Regions from separate parts of the Homo sapiens genome. Here region 2 is linked to region 1. The links come from fine-mapping of genetic effects on gene expression. Tissue or cell type: testis. Region 1 holds a variant in brackets; the other region holds the start of a gene. All regions are shown on one strand. Distances are between the middles of the regions.

Region 1 (8,000 bases):
CACACCCTGGCCAGCTCGCTGGCTCACCTGTGTGCTCTCGTCATGGAAGCCCTCGAGGAAGCTCTCCAGCAGCTCATCTGCGTTGTCGATCCGTTCCGCGTACTCGCCCACAATCCAGATCATGGCAGCCCGGGCCTCAGGCTCATCCAGGGAGTCCAGATTCTCACACAGTGTGGCAATCACACTCTCATACCTGGGAGACCAGGGCACAGTTGGTATGGGAGCCCTCAAGGAGAACGGGAAACCCAGGGAAGCCAGACAGGGGCCAGGAGGGAAGGGGACCTGCCTCCTAAGACCCCAAGGTGGCAGGTAAAGGGGATCTGAGTTTTGTTTTTTTTTTTGAGATGGAGTTTCACTCTGTTGCCCAGGCTGGTGTGCAGTGGTGTGATCTCACCTCACTGCAACCTCCACCTCCCTGGTTCAAGCAATGCCCCTGCCTCAGCCTCCCAAGTAGCTGGGATTACAGGGACATGCCACCACATCCAGCTAATTTTTTTGTATTTTTAGTAGAAACATGGTTTCACTATGTTGGCTAGACTAGTCTTGAACTCCTGATCTCAGGCAATCCACCCGCCTCGGCCTCCCAAAGTGCTGGGATTACAGGCAAGAGCCACCACACCTGGCCTGGGGATCTGAGTTTCATCTGTCACACGTTAGCCCTTATTTTGGCCTGGGGAGTAGAGGAGGGGCAGTGTGGACGAAATAAAAAACAAAGGGTTTCTTTTGAGAATGACGCTTGTGGCCAAGAAGTAAGGAAGAGGAGATTCCTCCTTCCTTTTCTGCCCCGCCATCCCTGTCCCCAGGCAGAGCTAGATGCCCTCTCCCTAGGAGGGCGGGCACGCACTTGTTGGGGTACTTGCGGAAGATGTCCTTGATGACCACGATGGCCTCCTGGACCACATAGTTGACCTTGGTCTGGATGAGGTCGAGCAGCGTGCTCACACAGCGCTCCGCAGATTGCTGCATGGGAAGAGAAGAGTGTGGGCGAGGTCCCCGCACCCCATTTCCAGTAGAGCCTCTGATGTCCACGCCTCGGCCAAGGGCTGCAAATCACTTCTGGCACACCTTCCTCATCACAGTGGGAAAACAGGAGAACCCTCTCCCCAGGTAACAGGAGAGAACCAGTACCAAATCATGGCCCTAGGATGGTGGGGACATGGGGAATGAGACTGAGGAGAAGCCAGAGGAAGAGTTCCTGAGAGCCAGGAGGGTCCTTGGAGCTCCTCTAAGTCAGGACCTGAGGGCAAGGTGACTACGCTGCAGTCCAACCCCACCTCTCTTTTTACTTGTTTCAGAAAGGGGGCTCCTATGTCCAAAAACACTCACAGAACCTCTGACTGCTTCTGCCTTTACTTCCACACACTGCTCTCACGGCCTGCTCTGAAGGAGATTTCTCAGGACGGCATCATAGGCTCCAGGGTGAGCACGCCTCAAGGGGATAGGTCGGGGGCGACCACCTATCCTAGGACACTGTAGCCACCAGTGGACCCATTTAAGGAGAATCTGGCTTAGTGGTCGAGGAACATCTCCACAGACAGAGAAAGGACGGGGATAAAATGCCAGGACACAGGAGTCTAGAGTGGCCCTGGGACGCTGGGACACAGAGGCACGTGGGCAGCTGAATGATGACAATATTTGCCAAGAAGTGTTCAACAGGCAGGGCCCTTACCCCAGAGCTCTGTGAAGTGAATGCTAAGTCCATTAACTTGTGGCTGCCCCAGCATCTTAACAAATGCTGCAGGAGAACCATGATTATGATGGGTTAATTTGATCGGCAGCAACTCGAAGGCCTAAAGGATACTATAGAGTGAGAAGGAACCCCACCAGATCTGCACAATGCTTGCCATGGGGGCTCCAGTGATGAGCCTCAGGCCTTCCCAGACCACAAGCAAGCTGGCAGATTCTGCTTGAATCAGACTGGTTTCCCGGTTTCAGCCCCCTTTTCCTTCTCCAGCCAAGGACAGAGTCCCAGAGCCTCACCTCCACCTTGATGGCGCAGCGGCCAATAGCACGCACAGCCTTCCGTACAAAGTCCACATCCACTTCTGTTGCGTACTCTTTCAGCTCTGCCAACACCTGTGGCCCAAACAGAAAAGATGGGGCTGGGGCACCTGATGGGGCAATCTGCTGGAACACTCCTGGGCAGTGAATATACACAGACTCCCTAGGAGAATGGGATTCTGCCTCCTGCTCCAGGTAGAAGGCCCAAGGGAGAGAGCTGGCAGGTGCCTGAAAAGGAAAGAAGGCCTGGACAACCTTGTTTGGGGTTGATTTAGCTAACATATCCAACACCACGTTGTAAGGGATGACAGGTGATAACATGGAGAAACATTCTTTAGTAATAAAAACATCAGTTCTTTTACTTGCTTACGAAGCCCCATGTCCCATGCTAAACACTCTTCATGAGATAAACCGTTAATGGTGAGACTGGTCACCTGGGCCAGAGCCTACAGTCTGGTGGTGGTGGAATGGTCCCACACTGAGCCCGTGTCCTGACCATCACACGCAGCTGACCTGGGCGATGTTGGCCTGAGAGGCCAGGCGGATCATGATGTCCAGCTTCTCCAGCTTCACGTAGATAGGGTCGTTGTACTTCACGAAGAACACCTTCATCTCATGCTTCAGGATCTCAGGCCTGGTGGTGGGGCAGGATGCCCGGAGAGCAAAAAACAAGGCTTAAGCCCTGTGAGAAAATGCCCTCCACATTTGCTGGGACATTTCTGGGGTCTGAGGTGGAGCCTGATGTCTGTGAAGGCAGAGTCACTGCCATGGCTGCAAGCTCCTGGGTAGAGGGCCCAGCAACCGGCCTGAGCAAGGCTGTGACTGCTCCTGTGTGCCTGAGCACGTCGCCGGAAGGGAGACGGAGGGCAGTGAGAGACGGCTCACTCACTCTCCAGAGGCAGCAGGCCCCATGGGACGGGCTTGGGAATCAGACATATCTCAGTCCCAGTCCCAGCCTGTGACCTCAGGCCTGTTTCCTCACCCATGAAATGGGAATGACGCTGTACAGAAACATGTTACTACTGCAGGTCTGGGACTGCTAGCCTCAGAAGGCCTGGCACGTGGCAACTTGGATTTTGAAGTGTTCTCACTGTTCCCTAAATGATAAAGGTATTTAACTGTACCTAGACCATTTGTACAAAGAATACAGTTTATGCTGAACACATGCTTCCCTACTGGGAATATGGAATTTGTGTAGGTGCCCCCAATAACAAACTTGGGTGCCGAAGTCTCAAATAGGCTTTCCTGGGCAGAAACATTACATACATGTTGCTGCATTTTGTTGGGGGAGGAGTGTGCTCTGTATGACTCCCCATGGGAAGGAGGAGGTACAAGGAAGCCTCTCATGGAACCCTCCAGACTCCACCTGTGTCCTTCTCCCCTATGACCCAGCCGGGCAGCCCTGCTCTGCTGCTGATAGATCTTTGCTGTGGGTATAGCTATATGCTGAGTCCTGGCTGGGCACAGCAGCTCATGCCTGTCATCCCAACACTTTGGGAGGCTGGGGCAGGAGGATTGCTTGAGTCCAGGAGTTCAAGA[C/T]GAGCCTCGGCAACAGAGTGAGACCCTGTCTCAAAAAATATATATATTTAAAAAATATATGCTGAGTCCTGTGAGTACTGCTAGTGAAACCTGAGCATGAGGGTGGTCTTGGGACCCCAACATGGACACCGACCTAATCGGCCTGCTGTGAGAGTGAGACGAGAAGCATCCAGCATGATCGATGCCTGCCTCAGAGAAGGCACCGCTAGGCAGGAGCTGTCACTAGCTGAGCCCTTTCACATGTGTCATTGTTCCTCCCTCAAAGGCAACATCCTTCTGCCTTCCGCGAGTATCACCCACCACATTTTTCCTGAACAAGGAAACTTCAGAGAGGGTGAGAGGCTGGTACTAGGTCACATGGCTAATGTCAGTAAAGACGAGAGTGGGGCGAGAATCCTCTGCCTCTGACTCCTACTCCTATGCCCTTCCAGAACAGAGAGGAGGAAGGAAAAGATACGAGGACAGATGGTGAGGAAGGGAGAAGACAGGACAGAGAGAAAGGAGAAAACTGGGTACTCTGTGCTGCTGTGCACACTGCGGGGAGGTCCTGGCCAAGCAAGGAGCCTTTGTCGTGCCCCATGGGAGAGGCAAGACCCCGAGCTGGGTAGCAGGAAGATATTTCTGCGATTAGGACTTGGCAAAAGCTGCCCAGCCACATCTCAGGACCAGGGCAGGGCATGTCTCAGTGACGTGGACAAATTCTTAAGAGATTTACTATGTTAAATATAGCACAGGGAATCCTGCACGCTGATCTGCTCTACTAGTCACTACGCCGCATTAAATCCGTGACCCAAGGGCACTGGCGTATAAAGACCCACACTGCAACCAGGAAGCCCTAGTTTCATCCCTTGGTTTAGGAACTCAGAAGGCTTTCCCATATTTACCTCCCTAATAACCCAATTCGACCAATATCTCTGGGTCCCCCGGGAGAGTACTAAGACCCAGACTGAAGCTACAACCAGGAGGATGTGCTGTCTTCCAAGAGAAAATGACTAATGAGGCCCCAGTTCTCTGTGTAGCCCCACTCCCAGCCACAGGGCCTGCTGTAACATACGAATGATCAATGGTTGCTACTGTCAAGTCCCCACGAATGATCAATGGTTGCTACTGTCAAGTCCCCACTGCTGACTGAGCCATTTGACCAAAAGCTGTGAGGAGAACTCAAGGTCAATCCCCCTCCCCAGAGCTGCAGGGCTCTGCCACTCAGAGCCACTTCAGAGGAAGAAGGGGATCATGCCATGAACCCCTCCGATCCAGCACTGCTCAATGGTTTTTCTGCTCTCGCCTACCCCCCACTACCATACCACGTGCCCTGGGAGCAGCAGCTCACTGCTCAGCCATTCTCATGGGAGGGAAGTGGGCGGCACAGCATTTGGAGTGAGTCCGATGTACCTCTCCCCCAGACCTCAAGGTTCCAACCTCAGAGAGTTTGACTAGAGCTACGGACTCTGTCCCCCGAAGAAATGTACACAGATACACAAAATCTGACAGCCCATTTCAGGACAGCTCGTGGACTATGAAGACAATATCTAGTTTAATCACCAAGCTAGTCTTTACATAGCCTGCTTCCTAGTTAGGTTAAGCCAGGGCTTCTCAACCTCAGCACTGCTGACATTTCGGGCTGGACAGTTACTGTGAGGGGCTATTCTGTGCACTGTAGGATGCTGACCAGCACTCCTAGCCTCTGCCCACTAGAAGCCGGTAGCATGCCCCCCTCAGCTGTGAAAACCAAAGTATCTCCAGACACCACCAAATATCCCTCAGGGGGGCAAAGCTGCCACTTTGGTTAAGCTATTCTGGGTTAAGCTATTTGAGACTTCCTGCATGGTGACAGGTCAGTTTCCTTTGAGAGCCCCCATTCCCAGCAGAAGAGGCTCCCCGAGGGGTACGCATGGACGTGCGTGTGGTGACCTCAGTACCTTTTCTGCACGATGAGATTGATGTTGCGCAGGGCCACATACTGCAGCTCTGGCTCGGCTGACAGCAGTGTGACCAGGGGTGGGGCCAGCTTCTTGAGCAGTGTGCCGTAGTAGTCCAAGTCCTTAGACAACATCTCCATGAACTTCATCAGCACCTTCACAGCAGAGAGCACCACAGCGGAGTTGGCATGGGAGAGCCTGGGGGTGACCCGCTCACAGATGCTGGGGTCCGTCCATTCCAACGGGGCAAACAGGAAAGACAAGGGGAAACATTCTGTTTTTAGTTACCAAAATAGCATGTCCAGGCCAGGCGTGATAGTTCACGCCTGTAATCCCAGCACTTTGGGAGGCCGAGGTGGGTGGATCACTTGAGGTCAGGAGTTTGAGACAAGCCTGGCCAACATGGTAAAACTTTGTCTCTACCAAAAAATATAAAAATTAGCTGGGCATGGTGGTAAGCACCTGTAGTCCCAGGTACTCAGGAGGCTGAGACATGAGAATCGCTTGAACCCAGGAGGTGGAGGTTACAGTGAGCCGAGATCGCGCCATTGCACTCCAGCCTGGGCAACAGAGTGAGACCCTGTCTCGAAAAAAAAAAAAATAGCATGTTCAGCCTGGGCAAAATCATGAGACCCTTCTCTACTAAAAATAATTTTACACATTAGCTGAGTATGGTGGTGCATGCCTGTAGTCCCAGCTACTTGGGAGGCTGACGCAGGAGGACTGCTTTGAGCCCAGGAGTTTGAGGCTGCAGTGAGCTGAGACTGTGACACTGCACTCTGGCCTGGGCAACAGAGCGAGACCCTGTCATAAACAAACAAACAAACAAACATGTTTTTTGTAGGAGAAAGATCTAAATCTTGGTTCTGCTGCTTGATAACCCCTAGCAGGTTCAAATCACTCTGAGCCTCAGTTTCTTCATTTATAGAATCAAGATGATGATGCCTACTTCACAGGGTTGCTAGGGGCTTAACTGACACAACGCATGTAAAGAACAAGGCTGGGTGAGGCTGAGATGGGTGGATTGCTTGATCCCAGGAGTTTGAGACCAGTCTGGGCAACATGGAGAAAACCTGTCTCTATACAAAATATAAAAATTAGCTGCTCATGTTGGCATGCAGATGTCTGTAGTCCCAGCTACCTGGGAGAATTGATTGAGCCCTGCAGGTTGGGGCTGCAGCTCCAGCCTGCAGAACAGAGACCCTGCCAAAAAAAAAAAAAAAAAGAACAAGCACAGTACTGGCATGTAGTACATACTGTATAGATGGCAACTCCTCACTTCCTCCGACTTGGAGGGTATCTTGTTGGTTAAGACCATGAGTCAGGTGAGCCCCAGCCAGGGGACCTGCACTATTCCCTCCACCTCTCTAAGCTGGAGCTCCCTCATCTGGAAAGTGGGGGATGATGATAAAAGTTGCATTAAAGACTCTAAAGTGTGGAAAGCACCCGGCAGAGCCCCAGACACCCAGTGAGAATTCAATGAGCAGTGGCTCTGGCGCTACCCACCTATTGAACTCAAAAGAGGTGCCCTGGGCTTCTGCCAGCTCCAAGGCCAGGCCATGCGTATGCCCATAGCTGCCCAAGGCAACTCTCCTGTCTACCTGGCTCTGGAGAGGTGGGAAGCAGGCAGGCCTCCCTTTAGGTGTGTCTGAGGGTGGGTTATGGGGCAAAGCACTAGAAAGGGGCCCACTAAGGCCCAAGGCCCAGTGCCTGGTTGGAGCCCCTGAGGACCAGGGTCCTCAAGCTGGGCTGGCAAGCAACGGGCAGCCCGCTCACCTCTGGGCCTCGCGGTCGTCCTTGGGCATATAGTTGGCGAGGCAGTCCAGGATGAAGATCTGGCCCCACTCGGTGCACTCATTGAGGGCTGTCAGCAGCTTGTTGATGGACTGTGGGTTCAGATCGAGCAGGTTGCTGCTGGGGTGAGACTCGGCAATTTCTGAGAGCGCTGCCACTGCATTGGCCACCACCTGGTTGAGAGGGTGGGAGGGGCAGAGGCTGGGGGTGCTGCTCACAGGCCAGGGGGCAGTGCATTAATGATGCTGGCTGGTCAGAGGTCAAATATCCTGAAAGGAATATGACCCAATGGGCAGGGTCTGGAGCTGCAACGAGACCCACTCCAAGCACTCACCCTGCTGACTCCTCTGCAAACTGGAACAAAACAAGTGTGCCTGCCATTTAGAAAAACAAGAAAGACCTAGCTCCAAGGGCTTAGCCACAGAAAGCATTCTCAGCTTCCTAACACAGCAGCGCCTGTCTACCAGCAACAGCACCTCACTTCAATGCTTGTCAGCTGTGCTTCTCAGAGCTAGGGGATTCCTGCAGAGCTCCTCGAGGCTACTGGGAGTGGATGGGGGCTTGCCAGGTGAAGCTCCAGGCCCTCAATCCATTTCCACTAGGAAGGTGTTTTTTTTTGTTTTTTGTTTTTTTTTTTTGAGATGGAGTTGTGCTCTGTCGCCCAGGTTGCAGTGCAGTGGTGTGATCTCAGCTCACTGCAACCTCCACCTCTTGGGTTCAAGTGATTCTCATGCCTCAGCCTCCCGA
Region 2 (8,000 bases), 86 kb before region 1:
TTTTTGTTTTTTGGGGTTTGAGACCGGGGTCTTGCCCTGTCGCCCAGGCTGGAGTGCAGTGGCATGTTCTCGGCTCATTGCAGCCTCTGCCTCACAGGTTCAAGTGATTCTCCTGCCTCAGTCTCCTAAGTAGCTGGGATTACAGGTGCACGCCACCACGCCCAGCTAATTTTTGTATTTTTAGTAGAGATGGGGTTTTACCATGTTGGCCAGGCTAGTCTCGAACTCCTGACCTCGTGATCCGCCCACCTTGGCCTCCCAAAGTGTTGGGATTACAGGCATGAGCCATCGCGCCTGGCCTAATTTTTTTATTTTTAGTACAGATGGGGTTTCACCATGTTGGCCAGGCTGGTCTTGAACTCCAGACCTCAAGTGATCTGCCCGCCTGGCCTCCCAAAGTGCTGGGGTTACAGGCGTGAGCCACTGCGCCCGGTCAGGCTTTTAATTTTTTTAATTTTTAATTTTTGCTCAGGGTGGTTTGGCTATTCTGGGCCTTTTGTGGTTCCATATAAATTTTAGGGTTATTGTTTCTATTTCTGCGAAGAATGGCATTGATATTACAGGGAGCCCACGTAGCCCTTTACATTGTAATTGGCACCTCCACCAGGCCATAAGACCCCAGGTCCCAGCCCAGAGCATGTCCCAGAGGAAGACTCAGAGAAGCTCCTGGAATGTGTGTGCACGGCTCCTTGGTATTGCTTGGGCCTTCACCCCTTTGTGCCACTTCCTTCCCAGGCACCCACCCACAGAACCCACACATCCCCACGGGCCCTGGGCTCAGGCAAAGGATACAGGCCAGGCCGGCAAGGAGGCCGCAAAGGAGCTGCAGGAAGGGTGGCTCAGAGCTGAGCAGTGGGGTCAGGGCAAGCAGCAGCCACGGCGACAGCCACGGTGGCAGTGCCCCACGGGGCCGTCTAGGGCGGTGTCCCTCCCCAGCCAGCATGGCCAGGTGGACAGGCATGTATCCACAGCTGCCGGCTGCACTGGACAGCCCAAGGCCTGCCAGCAGCACTGCCAGCAGCCCAGAAGCCAGGGCGAGCAGGGCTGAGGCATGCAGGAATCTCAGCGTGCCCAGGTGGCACTCCTGCTGCCAGCCCACAGTGGGCAGGAGCAGCAGGCTCAGGAGCAGGCCTGGCAGGGCCGTGTGGCCCAGGGCATGGGTCAGCAGCCGGTGCACTGGGAGAGAGAAGGGGCTTATGTGCCAGGTTAGTGGCCCCAACATCCAAGGCTGTCCCAGGTGTGCCAGGTTGAAGGTTACGCTACACCAGGGCCACCTGCTGAGCCCACCTCCCCTCCCCAGGAGCCAGTCTTCCCACAGCCAGCACTTAATCATTGGTGGAAGGGACCAAGGACTTCCAAACACTGTGGCTACGCCTCTGTGGTATTAAACAGAATACACTGGACGTGCCACTCAGTCTTTTCACTGACAACCCGCTACAGAGCACTCACTATGTCCCAGACACCATGAAGGTACTCTGCTTCTGTATTTACTAAATCATACCTGGCTGAGAGCATGAAATGGCCTGCTTCAATCCTGGAGCTACCCCATTCCCTCAAGCTGTGTGACCCTGGTCAAATCACTTAACCTCTCTGAGCATCATTGGGGGTCCTCAAATACAAATTGGAGGAGTTATTATTGGGAAACAGGTGCTCAGCTGAGGTCACTCCTCAAAACCCCAACACCTCCTCCTCCCATCCTGATGCTTAGTTGAAAGTCTTAGCTGTTTTTTTGTTTTGTTTTGTTTTGTTTTTTGAGATGGAGTCTCACTCTGTCACCCAGGCTGGAGTGCAGTGGCGCGATCTTGGCTCACTGCAAGCTCCGCCTCCCAGGTTCGCGCCATTCTCCTGCCTCAGCCTCTCGAGTAGCTGGGACTACAGGCACCCGCCACTACGCCCAGCTAATCTTTTTGTATTTTTAGTAGAGACGGGGTTTCACCGTGTTAGCCAGGATGGTCTCAATCTCCTGACCTCGTGATCCGCCCGCCTCGGCCTCCCAAAGTGCTGGGATTACAGGAGTGAGCCACTGCGCCCGGCCAATTTTTGTATTTTTAGTAGAGACAGGGTTTAACCATGTTGGCCAGGCTGGTCTCGAACTCCTGACCTCAAGTGATCCACCTGCCTCAGCTTCCCAAAGTGCTGGGATTACAGGCGTCAGCCACCTGGCCTTAGTTCTTATTTCAAGGAAAAGCTGCTAGAAAGGGAAACCATGAGAAAAGCACTCCTACCCATAGGTTCCAGCCCACCCTAGGGAGTCCTCTGCCTCCCTTCTTGGCTGTGGATGTGCTGGGCATGCTCCTGTCTAAGGCCATGCTTTCCCGGGACACTGGGCCCCATCCCTGTTTGACCCCTGGAGGCCTTGTGCTGCTCCTGCCAAGTGGGCCCAGGCCCTACAGCAAGTCTCCTGCTTCCTCCAAGGTCCACGTGGCTGGCCCTCACCCTGCCAGGGGTCCAGCAACAGCTCCGGGGCCAGGACCAGGCCGGGGCCGGCCCCCACCAGCCACAGGGTGCTCATCAGCAGCATCAGGACTGAGGAGGCCAGAGGCAGTGCTGGGGACAGTTGGCCATGGGGGCCCCTGGCATGCATCGCTTGGTTGAGGACGGTCAAGGGTGGTCCTGGGGCTGTGTGCTGGGGATAAAAGAAAACAATAACAAGTTATTACTGGAGCTTTTATCTCACCAATACCCTCTCAAGCACCTTATCAACAGCCCTATTTTACAGAGGTGGAAACAGGCTGGAGACGCAGGCCCAGCAGCTTGGCCTTAGTGGAGCTCAGACCCTAACCCATGCGCTCATAAGCCATCTTACCATTCCACTCACCTCTGTTTAAGGACTGGCAGGGGACAGGCATAGAGACTTCTGAGTCCTGATAGGCCCTGAACTCCCAAAAAGAGGGGTTCAGGCCCTCACCCCCCAGGGCGAATTCAGGGCCATCTCTAGCCCTCTTCTGTCCTCCCCCTTCCCTCAGACTACTACCTCCCTCCTTCCTCCCCTCCCCTGTTCCCAGCCTTAATGCTCCAGATGGTTTCAGTTGCCCTTGACCCTGGGGTGGGGCCAGACAATGGGCAAGCCGACAGGGTAAGGGGTAGGGCAGATGGGCAGAAGTCCCACATCTTGAGCCATACTCAGAGACCTGCGACTGAGACATCCCCTTTGAGGGTGAACCCATCCACTGTAAGCCTCCTCCTGCTTCCTTACTGGCACAGCCCCTCTGGCCCTGGCTCCCCTTTCCACAGGAAGGGTACAGTATGCGCTCCACCTCTTTCTGCTCTGTGTCCTGAGGCAAGTTTCCAACCTCATCTTTTTACAGATGAGCCTCATTTTACAGATGAGCCTCTCCTTTCTCATCTGTAAAATGGAAATTCATAAATTCTTTTCCTCAGAGTATGATGAAATAAAAAGGAATAGGCTAAGGCAGGCCCTGGCCCACAACTCTTCCTCCATAAACCATAGCAATCCGCACTAATCATGGCAGGCGTCTGTAGCCACCAACTGGCCCATCGAGAAGGCCTCAATATGGAGGTGGCTGCTCCAGCCTAGCTGGTCCCAGCTTTGGCCCTCAAACATGGCCTTTCCCTGCCCACCAAAGCAAGGCCTTCTCCCCCGTGCTGTTCTCTTGCATCCAGCCTGTCCTCCAGGGCCTGTAGGTCTTCACCCCTGGTCAGGCCTCTCGGTCCCAGGACTCCCACTGAGCTGATTCAGGGCAGGAAGCAGGATCCCAGAGAGACAAGAAGGCTGCCTAATTTGCTCCCCTGCCAAGCGCCTTCTCCACATCTACCAGTTTCCTGCAGGAAAAATGTGGAAAGCTCCTCTGCCTGCATTGTCCTTCCCTCCATTTTGCCAGCAGGCAAACTCCTATTTCACCCTTGGAAGCCCAGCTCAAATATCCCTTCCCCTCCTCTGGCCCCCTAACATCATGGATCTTATCCTTAGGAGCACAGCTTGGCCAGTCTGTCTCCCTAGGCAGGTGGTCTGAGCTCATGGCTCCTCTGATCCAACCCCACATTCCCCAGGGTATTCACAGCACACAGCCAGTGCTTTATATATGTTCACTGAAAAAAGGACACTAGCTTGGCTCCTGGTCCTGCCGAGGGATTTGAAGGTGAACCCTGCCCTTCGCGGACCCGGGCATCCACCTAGGGGGCTGGGGCTAGAGGTCCAGGAAGGTGGGCAGGGTCAGCCTTGCCTGGAGGCAGGGTTTGGGGCCAAGGCACCCACCGTAAACCTCCTCCTGCATCGACACCTCACAACCATTCCCCAGCTCTGGGCACCTTAGCAAGGGTGAAGGGCTTACCCGTGGACACTCGGAACTGGGACTTGAGCCCCCTGGACCTCACTTTCTTCAATCTATGAAACGGGGCAGTGCACCACCAGGCCCTGCCTACCTTACTGGGAAGCCGGGAGGGCAGAATGGAAAGACAAGGACGGAGATTCTTCCGGTGGCGGATAGAGTAGGGGGTCCCAGGATCTGTCTGGTTCGAACTCAGCTGGTGACTTTGCAGAGATACTCAATTTCCTTGGGCCTCAGTTTCCCCTTCTGTAGAAACAAGGATATCGGATGAGGGATGATTAAAGGGCCTGCTCCACCTCGACCGTTACCGGGGATAGGGTCTCGGGGCCAGGCACGGCGTTCGAGGCCTCCCACCCAGCCGACCGGCCTTGGGGACCCTTCCCCGCTGGCCCGGGCCACGCGTCCCGGGTACTCACTGCAGAGCGCGCCCGGCAACCCCGAAAGGCCGGTCGGGGACCCCGGCTGGGAGTCAGGACTCTAGCTCCCGGGCGCGACCCGAGAACCCTGAATCCATTCCGCGCACACCCGGCCGCGTGACCCCTGCCGACCGGCTGGCGCGCCACCCATTCCCCGCGGCCCGCGGATTAGTCAGCAGTTGTTCTAGTCCGGGTCCCTTCCCCCAGCCCTCCCGCCGATCTCCGTCTCCCTGCAGGGCCGACTCTTCAGCGACCGTCCCTAGAGCCAGCGGACGGAACCATTCCAAACAGCCTAGTCTCGTGCTGAGAGCCTCTCCGGTTTCACGCTGAGACCCGCTCACCCCCGCTCTGGCCCCTTAGATGCTATTTTGGCCCGAGTGTCACGTCGGGCGCTCTTTAGAGAGGACTGGGACAAGAGTTGCGGACGCGAAGAACGAGTAAGCGGTGGTTCATCCCTCCTGACCCCACCCCCGTGGCCTGGCCCGATGGTCGCGCCCGGGGTTGCGAGATTTGCGCCTGCGCAGTGCGGCGCCTAGAGGGAAAGCGAGAGGGAGACGGACGTTGAGAGAACGAGGAGGAAGGAGAGAAAATGGCGTCCACGGGTGAGTATGGTGGAACTGCGGTCGCGCCGGCGGTAGCCGGAACGCCCAAACTGGGGGTCGTTCGTCTCTGGGCTTGGCTGGGAAGACTGAGTGGAGTTGCCGAGAGGGGGTTGAGGCACCCGCCGCGGCCCGACGAGCTCGGGGATCCGCATTCCTCTCCCCTCCCCCAACCGGGCGGGCCGGTTCTGGAATCTTCCGGCGCCCGTGGCGCGCGGGGGGCTTGCTGCGGCGGGGGCGCGCGGGGCCCGCCTTGGCCTCCATTGTGTGGCGGTCCTCGCGCCCTGAGCTCCGGGCCTCCCGCCACGTGGGCGGGGCCTGCGGCCTTCGAGGCCCTGCGTGAAGGGGAGGATTTGGCCAGGCCTCAAGCCGGTCACTATGAAACCGCCGGGGGGCCCGCAGGCTGCTGTCCCTGTGAGGCCTCCCTCCCCGTTTTCAGGGTTTCCTGAGAAACCAGGGGAAAAAGCAAATAAAGATACCGTGGATTTGTGGGCCGAGGGGTGCCGGCCTATGAGCGGGAGCCCCGTCATCCTTAAGACCCAGTCGGCTGGGGCGTCTGGCGCTGCCGAGCTGCCCCCTCTGTGGCTTCCAGCCCCAAGCCGAACTTCTGCTCGCCTGGGCTTTAGACAGAATGTGCTTCCCTCCTCCAGGGCCCCCAGTTTGCCGCTTTCTTGGGCTTCTCCATTTTTATCGTTATTAATCCACGTCCTCCCCTCCCCCAAAACCAATTAAGTGGCTTCCCAGGGCCCTTTTTCTGCAAACGCCGAGGGACATCCGTTGTATAATAAGGCCAGCCTGGGTCGAGAGACGAGAAACGCTACCAGAAAGATATTTCTGGTCTCTCTGACCTAGGAGGAACAAAAGGCCGAGCCTTCATTTGAATTATGTTTCAGCAGTGGCCTCGCACGTTTATTCGCCTGCGTTAGGCCGGCAGGCCTGTTGATTTCGTAGGTCGACAGAGGAGAGGGGAAAAAAGGCCAGTAGAAGCAATCTTAAAGGCACTTGCAAGCAAGCCCCGGTTGGGAACTCCAAAATGGGAGTAGAGTGGTCCTTGATGGAAGGAGCGTTTAAGAGTGTCGCCTAGCCATCACCTGCAGTTCGCAATCTGTGGGTACACTAACCCGCGAAAATTGGCAGGGTGGAGCATTTTTGCCCCGGGGGTATTCTCAGGCCACCTGGTTCCAGGCCTTAGAGACAGTGGGAGAAGATGAGAAGGAAGACAGGAAAAGTTCTGGGCACTCCAGAGTTTTTGGAGTCCAGAATCCAGCAACTTAAGGACAGTTTAAGAATTCTCCCCATCTGTGGTCAATAAACAGGTAAGTGTTGGCTGTTCGTGCCGGGATACCAAAGAGTGGATACCAAAGAGTGCCGGTAGAAGAGAGGACTGAAATACCACAGCTAACCTCCCGGTGGGAAGTGGTTTCCTAGGTGCCCTATCCACCCTCTTCTGCTCTGCAAAAGCCTGAAAAGGCAAAACGTGTGCGTTGACATTTTTGCGTGGCTGGACGTGCCTTTTTTCAGTCAACTTTGTTCAAACCTTGTTCACCAGTAACTACCATGTGCTGTACTGTATTAGAATTACAGTTGTGGTTTCTGTTGACACAAAGTAAACACATTAGGCCTGGCTGGGGGGGCCTTCAGAGAGTCACATAAGTAATCTGGTCCTTAGTTTCCTTTCCTGTAAAATACAGAAGTTAGGCTAGACCTCTTAAGCTTTTGAGCCCTTCTGACCTTCCAGCATAAGCATTCCACAAATTTGTCCTATGCTGACTTCAGCTCAGGTACTGTGAAGCTCAACTCAGGTAGTGTGAAGCAGCTTCCATAGTGACTGCTCTAAAGTGTTAAACCGTTGCCTTGGGTTAATAATAGAAGTTTTCTCTCCTCGTATGTTATCTCATGTAGAAAAGTACGTAAAGCATATATATCCAGTGCAACAAAGAATTGGAATGCAGACTCGCAGCAATCTAGAACCCCCAGCGCTCAATCACAGTGAAGTGATTTTTAGTGAAGTCAGTGGCTCACTTTTGGGGGTTAAAAACGAACACGGTTGCTGAATAATCTGACCAGTTTGTAATTGTATTAGGTTGGTGCAAAAGTAATTACGTTTGCATCAACCTAATAGCTTGCTTGAGGGCCTGTGATGTTTGTGTGCTCTAGGAAGATAAATGTAAGTTCATGAAACAAATTTGCTACCTTCTATAGCCCACCAGTTAGTATAGGGCCGAATCCTGTGGTTTCTCACTGATAAGAGGTCATTGGTTGTTCCATATCAGCTTTGCCAGTTTGATGTTTTACATAACTGCTCTTGCGTAAAAGTCGTCTTGCAAACGTTGAACTTACATGACAGTGATTTACAATCACTTCTCAAGCAAAGACCTCAACAAAACGTGGGTTAAAATATTTGATGTTAAATGATTCATTGCTGTGTTTATTTTGTAGATGCCACATGGAAAAAATGATCTGCATTTAGTTTTAATGTCAGAGAGAGTATGACTTGTAGTGCTATTGAAAATGCCTTTAAGATTGTCATGAACAGATTATTTTTTTCATTATAGGTTAGCCTTTGGGCAGTTGATTTGTTCCTCTTGGTGATTCAGGGTTTTGAGTTAAGAGTGTGTACAAAGGAAAGAAAGTAGTCCAGTAAAGTACAGAGAGGTAGGCAGATAAGCCAACGTGAAGAGATGGATTCAGCAAAG

Alleles and levels. Alleles are on the strand shown, and positions count from the first base shown. SD is a standard deviation of normalised expression in the study named.
With allele T in place of C in region 1, the expression in testis of the gene that starts at base 4,939 in region 2 is lower (moderate effect, 0.68 SD a copy in GTEx).

What was found. PIP is the estimated chance that this variant, and not a neighbour inherited with it, causes the effect.
Region 2: it holds the start of RHBDD3, and the variant in region 1 is fine-mapped to the expression of RHBDD3 in testis (GTEx, PIP above 0.99).

What each region holds. Positions count from the first base shown.
Region 1 is chr22:29,349,191-29,357,190 of GRCh38, forward strand. It overlaps AP1B1 (adaptor related protein complex 1 subunit beta 1), which reads right to left. Exons shown (of 23, transcript NM_001127.4): 6 at 7,236-7,426; 7 at 5,460-5,681; 8 at 2,515-2,635; 9 at 1,981-2,076; 10 at 845-960; 11 at 28-193. Among named protein-coding and RNA genes, the nearest start is that of SNORD125, 20 kb to the left of the region's middle. The variant C/T (reference allele first, on the strand shown) is at 3,541.
Region 2 is chr22:29,263,043-29,271,042 of GRCh38, forward strand. RHBDD3 (rhomboid domain containing 3) reads right to left here and starts at 4,939. Exons shown (of 7, transcript NM_012265.3): 1 at 4,706-4,939; 2 at 4,384-4,535; 3 at 2,437-2,626; 4 at 793-1,176. The coding sequence starts at 2,584. It overlaps EWSR1 (EWS RNA binding protein 1), which reads left to right and starts at 5,226. Exons shown (of 17, transcript NM_005243.4): 1 at 5,226-5,307. The coding sequence starts at 5,295. RefSeq lists enhancers at 4,818-5,689, 5,082-5,141, 5,252-5,311, 6,774-6,823 and a silencer at 5,482-5,571.